Linked DNA regions of Homo sapiens. The protein of the gene in region 2 interacts with the protein of the main gene of each other region in a pairwise test. Each region holds a gene or a part of one and is shown on either strand. Other genes may lie near its edges.

What was found.
Region 1: the proteins of TARDBP (region 2) and CFAP100 interact in binary tests that used the Homo sapiens proteins (3 or more experiments, as listed by UniProt).

Annotation. Positions count from the first base shown.
Region 1 is NC_000003.12:126,393,663-126,397,708, forward strand, and holds the start of CFAP100 (cilia- and flagella-associated protein 100), read left to right. Parts: upstream 1-1,246; 5' UTR 1,247-1,316; intron 1,317-1,662; exon of another isoform or gene 1,663-1,767; intron 1,768-2,279; 5' UTR 2,280-2,338; coding exon 2,339-2,387; intron 2,388-4,046. UniProt on the Homo sapiens protein: May play a role in ciliary/flagellar motility by regulating the assembly and the activity of axonemal inner dynein arm.
Region 2 is NC_000001.11:11,022,654-11,025,992, reverse strand, and holds the end of TARDBP (TAR DNA-binding protein 43), read right to left. Parts: coding exon 3,339-3,339; 3' UTR 501-3,338; downstream 1-500. UniProt on the Homo sapiens protein: RNA-binding protein that is involved in various steps of RNA biogenesis and processing.

The DNA.
Region 1 (4,046 bases), on a different chromosome or scaffold from region 2:
AAGGGACAACTTGTCTTTCAGCACATTTGACAATAGCAGCTGTAACGAACACACACGTGCACACATGCACACACACACACTACATGTGCACACATGTGCACATGCACACATGCACAAATCACATATGTGGCTTAACACAATACAACATTCTTCCTCCCTTGTGCAAAGCCCACTGTGGATATTGCAAGTTGGGACACTATTCTACCAGCGAAGATTCAGGGATCCCTGCTCCTTCCATCTTGGGAGCTCCTCCTCACTCCCACCCCCAGCTCCAATGGAGTTCCTGTTGTGGATGTGGTCTTCCCACCCACTACACCGGCCTTAGGCAGAGCCTGGCACAGCTGGGATCCTCACTGGGACTACATTGCTGGGCTGCAGACTGCTCCAGAGTCCCCCCAGAAGCCCCTAAATGTCCCTGAAAAGATGAGTCACTGACTGTGCTTTCAGCTCCAAGCAGCCTTTATCAATCTCTCAATCCCCATAGATACTGGGAAAATCTAGGAACATGTTCAGAACTCAAAGAGGGGTCTTCTGCTGCTGCTTTTTGTGGGGAGACAGGATCCCTGAGCTGGGGGACCAGACATCCTGGTGCCCCTGGCTTCAAGCAGCTGGTGGATCTGCGCGCTCAAAACTTGCCCTGGTCTGTATGGCCTCATCCTCTCGCTTGTCCCACTATGATGGATCTCGCTCGCTCCGTAGAGCAGTGGCTTTGCAACCCTAGCCAGCACTGGGGTCGCGCGTGGACTTGTCAGGACACACATTGCTGGGCTCCACCCCGAGTTTCTGATTCTGGGGCGAGGATTGAAAACTTGCTTTTCTAACGAGTTCCCAGCATTTTCGATGCTGCTAGTCCTGAGACCATACTTTGAAAACCGCCCCTCTAGAAAGTGCGATCCCTCCCCAGGAAAGAAGCAGGGCTATTTTTGCTCCAAAAGTATCCATCCTGCACGCCCTCTTCAGTGCTTGGCACGTGGCGAATAAACCAATCAGGATGAAAGGAGCCAACCCAAGTGCGGAGTGTTGAACCTCAGAGGAAGAAACCCGCGTTCACCAGGCCCAGGCCTGGGCCAGGCGCTGTCCTGGCGGCGTCAGGGAGGACATCGTGCCCAGAGCTCGGACCCAGCAGCCCGGCCCCGCGCCCTCCCTGTCCCGCGGCCCGCAGGCCCAGCCCTCAAGCGCCCAGCCTCCGCGGCCTTTGTGGCGTCACAGCCAGCCTGAAGAATGGTTGCCTTGGAGACGTAAACCCAAGAGCCCTGCTCCTGGAGCTGAGAACTGCAGCGCGGAGGCTTCGGAGCGAGCCGGGGCAGTCGGGGTCGGTGGGTGCGCTCGCGGTCCGGGGAGAGGGGGCGCGCGGGGTCCGTGAGGGCGCGTGGGGGCGGCGGCAGGGGTGCGAAACCAGGGCCCGAGGGGCGCGCGTGGCCGGGAGCGGACTTGCAAGGCGCCTTCCAAGGCTGCCCGCTCGCATGCCACTTGCTTGAAACACACCCATCTACCATCCACCCCATCTGTCCTACCATCCCTGTGCACCTCGCTGTGTGGCTCGGGGCCTTGCAGAGCGCGGGTGTTAGGAGGCGACCCTGCGAACCCCAGGCTCACCCAATAGGGGGCTGCAGCAGGAATGCGGCAGGAATGGCACAAGCTTAGAGTGGGGGCCCTTTCCAGAGGCAGCCCCTCCTGACTGTGACTTTGGACACCTCGCTGAATCTCTGCTTCCTCCCCTGCAAAAATGAAAATTCATTCAATGGATGAAGTTAAGAAGTGCCAAGGGTATGTCAGGAGCTTGGATGAGCAGAAAAGACCCCCCTGTTCTCATGGAGCTCACATTTTAGGGGGAAATAGACAACGAATGGATTTTTAAAGTGATAATCAGATAGTGGGAATTGCAGAGAAGAAAATAAAGGCCACATGGGGGTGGGGAGGAAGAAACCACTTTGGATGGGATGGTGAGAGGTCTCTCTAAAGAGGTGACATTTGAGCTCGGAATTGAAGAGAAGGAAGCCCAGCACCCCCAGCTGGGTATGGGAGAATATTTTTTGGCCGAGGAGGCCGAAAATGCAAAGGCTTGAGGCCAAGATTGATGTGTTCTAAGCACAGAAAAAGTAGGCAGCTAGAGCCAAGTCCAGGAGGTGAGAGTGGACCCTCGGGTGGGAGAGGCAGGGAGCCGGCAGGTGTCCCCACAAGGTGAGCCCTCAGCAAATGTCGGTGGCTGTCAGCCACCCAGGGGGAAGGAAGCTCTGGGCTTGGGGACCACCAGGCTCAAGCACTGTGTCACTCCTCAGGTGAGGATCTCCTTTAGAAGAGGAGAAGCCTTGCATCAACCTCTTGGGCCTCAGCCAAGATGTCTGAGATACCGTCCACTATAGTCTCCAAGAACATGACCAATGACAGTAAGTACCGGGCCAGGGTGGGCACTCTCAGAGGTCAGGGGCAGCTTCGGAGCCTGTCCAGCTCCCTCACAGGTTAAGGTAGCTCTAAACCAAACACTAGGCAGGAGTCATAGATCTGCCTACTTCCCTTGAAACAAGGCATATGGATTGCCTGCAGCTGCTGTAACAAAGCACCACCACAAACTGGGGGGCTGGAGTCACAGACATTTGTTTTCTCAAGCTCTGGGGGCTGGATGTCTGAGATCAAGTTGTCCAAAAGGCTAGGTCCCTCCAAGGGCTCTGAGCGAGAACCCATTCCGGGCCTCTCTCCTGGTTTCCAGAGCTTTGCAGGCAATCCTTGGTGCTCTTTGGCTTGTAGAAGCATCACTCCCATCTCAGCCTTCCTGCCCATGTGGAATTCTGCCTGTGTGTGTCTGTGTCCAAATTTCCCCATTTTACAGGGACCCCATCACATTGGATTGGAGGCCTACCCCGCTCCAGAATGGCCTCAGCTTAGTGAATTACAGCTGCAAAGACCTTATTTCCAAACAAGATCACATTCTGAGACAGTAGGGGTTGGGACTTCAACATACGAATTGGGATGACACAGTTCAACCCACAACAGACCATGAGGAAGGTGTCACCGTGAAGGTGAGCTTCTCTCAGCACCCCTCTGACCACAAATGCCAGGCTGGGCTCCAAGGAGGTGGTCAGCTGGCGCTAGGCCCTGGATGAAACATGCCTGCCCTAGTGGAATTGCATGCATTTGCCAAGATCTCACACAGGGCGACGCTGAGGGAGGCTGCCCAGGCCTACCTGGGGCCCTTCAGCTTTTTTATTGGAATTTAATTTGGTTTTGACCAGGCATAGTATTCCATGGTTCAAAATTCAAAAGTGTGTTAAAAGCCCCTCATTGTGAAAAGCCTCTCCCACCCTGTCAAAGGCATACAGTGCCCCTTCCTTAGAGATGGCCACTGTCCCCTGTCTCTTCTAGGCTACCAGCTCAGTGCACATACAGGCAAATGTGTGTAGATGAGGTTTGTTCTTTTCTTACACGGAGATCACACAATGAAAACCCTGTCTGCACCTTGATTTTTTTAATTAACCCATACATTGTAGAGACTGTTCCTTATCAATACATCAAGAATTCCCTTATACTTTTTGTGCTTTTGAGTAGAATAGTAATCTTTCAGTATGGCTGTATCATAATTTATTAACCAATTCTCTGTTCATATGGGTGATTAGCTTGTTTCAGAAAGTGTGCTGCTATAAACAGTGACCCCCACCATTACACTTAGGTGTGCACACGCTCTCTCGTTCTTTTTTTGCTCCAGAGTAAATTTTAAAATGAAGAAGGGCTGGAATAAGGTTTAAAAACAAAGATGGCTTTGAAATGTTTATAGATAACAAATTAACTCTCAATGTGCCCATAAAACAATGCAGATAATTATGCTACCACAAGACAGTTGAAGGACATGTAAACTATATTGATTTGTTTATTGGTATGAGGGGGAGTGCCTAGTTGGGGTACCCTATGACCCTGTGGCATTGGTAATTCCTCGAGATTGATTGAGGGCCTGTGCATTTGTGAGAAAACCAGGCCAGACAGGCAGAGCCAGGATTGGCACCCAGGGCCAGGGGTCTCAGAGTCAGGTGGGTCAGGGAGGTTGGCATGGGCAA
Region 2 (3,339 bases):
ACAATGAACATGAAATACTTGGGCACAGTGATGCCTAACAAAAGCACACATCACACAACAGTTAAGTACAGAACCCTAATACACACTTAGGGGCTACTTTGCTCATACTCAACAACAACAAAATCATTCTTACTGTTACACATTATCTCTTGGATTACGGAGTAGTTAACTTCCTACTTTTTCCTACTAAGGACACAACTTAAGTGCTGATTTAACTTTAAAAATCTCATTTGGTTTTAGCTGGCTATTCCTTCCTAAAAGGTTTTAATAGCTAACATTCAAGTTTTTCAGTCTAACTAAAAGTTACCATTCCATGTAAAAGCTTACTGTGAGTCTTGGCCTCATTTCTCTTGTGCATATGAAGTACAACTTCTTGAGACTCAATTTTTATTATTTTCTTTTTTCTTTAGAGACTCAATTTTTAAAGGTAACTTTCCAGCATCTGTATATCACATATAAAAAGAAATCGTGTTTTTCCAGTAAGACTCCAGACACTAAACTGTGGTGTCAAAAAAAAATTTTATTTATCTGGTTCAAAAAATTTTTTAGAATGAATGCATTTAGATTGACCAAATAGATTTTTAAAAACAAATCTTTGCCAAATAGTTTAAGTACTTTTAAACTTCAAAATCTTCTTAGGGTAAAATAAATACCCGTATCTATGCAGTACCATAAACATGTTAATAAAAGGCCACTCAACATTGAAAGCCTTCTATGACCAGTAACTGAAATTTACACAAGTGTAAAGAAGGGATTAAACCATGCCGTTGACAAGTTAACTTACCCCTGGGCTCCTTGAAGGCTTGTCAGTTTAGTCTTTGGAGGTCCCCGAGTACCATTTTAAGTGTTACCATGTTACTGCTGCTGAGTAATAGTGCAAGTGCTAAAATGCAAAATTCAGATGGTACAGGGTTTGGAAATCATGCAGATTCAGATGCAGAAAAAAAAAATTAAAACAACTCAAGATCCCTTTACAGAGGAAACTGAATAATGAAACAATGTGGCGATTACAAGTCTAAAGGATGACTTCATTGATAAATGTTTATGTAACTTGCAAAATGACAAACCTATTTATCATAATCTAATTAGGTAAGGGCATTAGGTAAACTACCAACACAACAAATATCACATTCTTCCAACTAGAAAATGAGCTCAACTCTCACAGAATTAGTTACAAAAAAGTACAACAGAGAATCAATGTTATTGCTTTTACATACTTAACAATGCATTGTGAGAGTGTGAGTTTTGTAAGCGATTTTATTCAACTGTATTCAATGTTACCACATTCCCCCACCTCCTGGAGGACAAAGCCCATTCCACTTAACACTTCCAGACAGACAACCCACCCTAATTCTTAAAGCTATCAGGCCTCTTAATGGATTTCAGGCACAAGATAATTTGTGGTTTCTTCTACTTTATCCCTACTGCAATTAATTCCACTTTTCAAATCCCAAACTAGGAAGGTGCTGATATTCCCTTTTCAATTGATATGCTTTGCTACAAAGCATTAGAAAATAATCAACATTTTGCCCACTCCCCCAAATAAGAATCTTTTTAGAAGGCATGACTTCCCAATGGAGATTTACACAGGCCATGTAAATAGAACATCACCCAAATGCACAGAGGCACTAAGAAAAAGCCGGAGGGTACTGCTTACCATTTTAGGTGCGGTCACCCAGACTTATTCAAAACTAGATTTCAAAAGAAAAAAAAAAATTTTCACTTTGGCCAATGCAAGAACAAATACCAATTAAGTCTGGGTATCAGGTGTCAATGCATGACAGGTGATGAATCCATTTGACTTGAGACAACTTTTCAAATAAGTTTATTTGAAGCAAAATAAACTACTGCCAAGAAACTTTATGAAAGTTCCATCTCAAAAGGGTCAAAAAAGGGGAATTAACTGCTATGAATTCTTTGCATTCAGGGCTGCAAAACAAAGACACATATTATTTAAATCAGTTTTATTTAAGAATTTCCAACAATGACAACTCTTATAAAAAGCATCCAAGCACAGGACACAGAACTGCAGCAAACAGCATTCTTATGGGTAGCTAACAGACATTAGAACTTCCACCCTTCTTTGAGACACCTGAGCTCACTGGTGAACTCTGCTTCAAGTCCTCCTGCAAAGCACACCACAAGCTCAGTCCATGTTCTCAGCCCATCAGCTTCAGTTCACATTGCCACACTTACATATCAGTAACAGAAGAGAACACACACCATACAGCATTCACAGCAGTTGACAAAGGGGTAGGGGGAGTACAAGTATCATTTCACTTAACACATTCATCTAATGTGGGTTATCTAAGAACAAAAACTCACTTAAAAGTCTTCCAACAGATGTGGATGTCCTTTGAATGCAAAAAACATTCGTACATTATTTGCTATCATTGCTCTCTGCACACTCTCTCACCAAAGCCACAGGATTGAGAGACACATCTCGCCAAGTTAAAAAATATCCATTATGCACCACCAAGTCTCTGCACGCGCTCTCTCCTTTTCTCGCTCATACTAGCCTTTCATGCCTCGGCACCACCATCAATCCCACACAAGGTTTCAAAAGTTCAGACAGCCTTCTGGTTCCATATCACAGCCTTGCGTTCATAGCGTTGATACGACTCCATGAAATAAAGAGTAGCGGATAAAAATGGGACACCCACCGTCAAAGACGCGGCCTGTGATGCGTGATGACGAATTCTTGAATGAGAAAGCATGTAGACAGTATTCCTATGGCAGAATATTTACAGCACTACTTTCAATGAAGTGCTTCTTCCATAAACATTTGAAATGAGATGAACTGCAGAGATTAAATGAAGGCTTCATATTGTACTTTTGTGTATGAGGGGAGACAAGTGTTAAAAAACAAAACAAAAGAACCAAACACTGTGACACCATGATCTCCTAAAAGGAGATTTTCTTAAGGAAAAAAATCCATATGGTGGGGTTCAAATTAAAACAAGGGGTAAAGAATGTAGTTCTAATCAATGGTTTCCGTTTTGAACATGCAAAGAATTCACTTGACAAGTCCAGGGATAAAATATTACAGGAGAAACCTTTTGATATCAATTGTAGTGTGTTGGTTTACCAATCAGGCAAACAGCAGTTCACTTTCAACCACTCAATATTTCAACCTTTCATGTAACAAAACTTATAAAATTCCTTTAGCTCTTCCTTTTTCTAAAGAAAAATGTCAAAAATACTGCTGAATATACTCCACACTGAACAAACCAATTTTGAAAATTCTTAGTACATATGTATTTTACAATATACTTACCATGAGTTTAGAAAAATTTGAATTCCCACCATTCTATACCAACCAACCACAACCCCACTGTC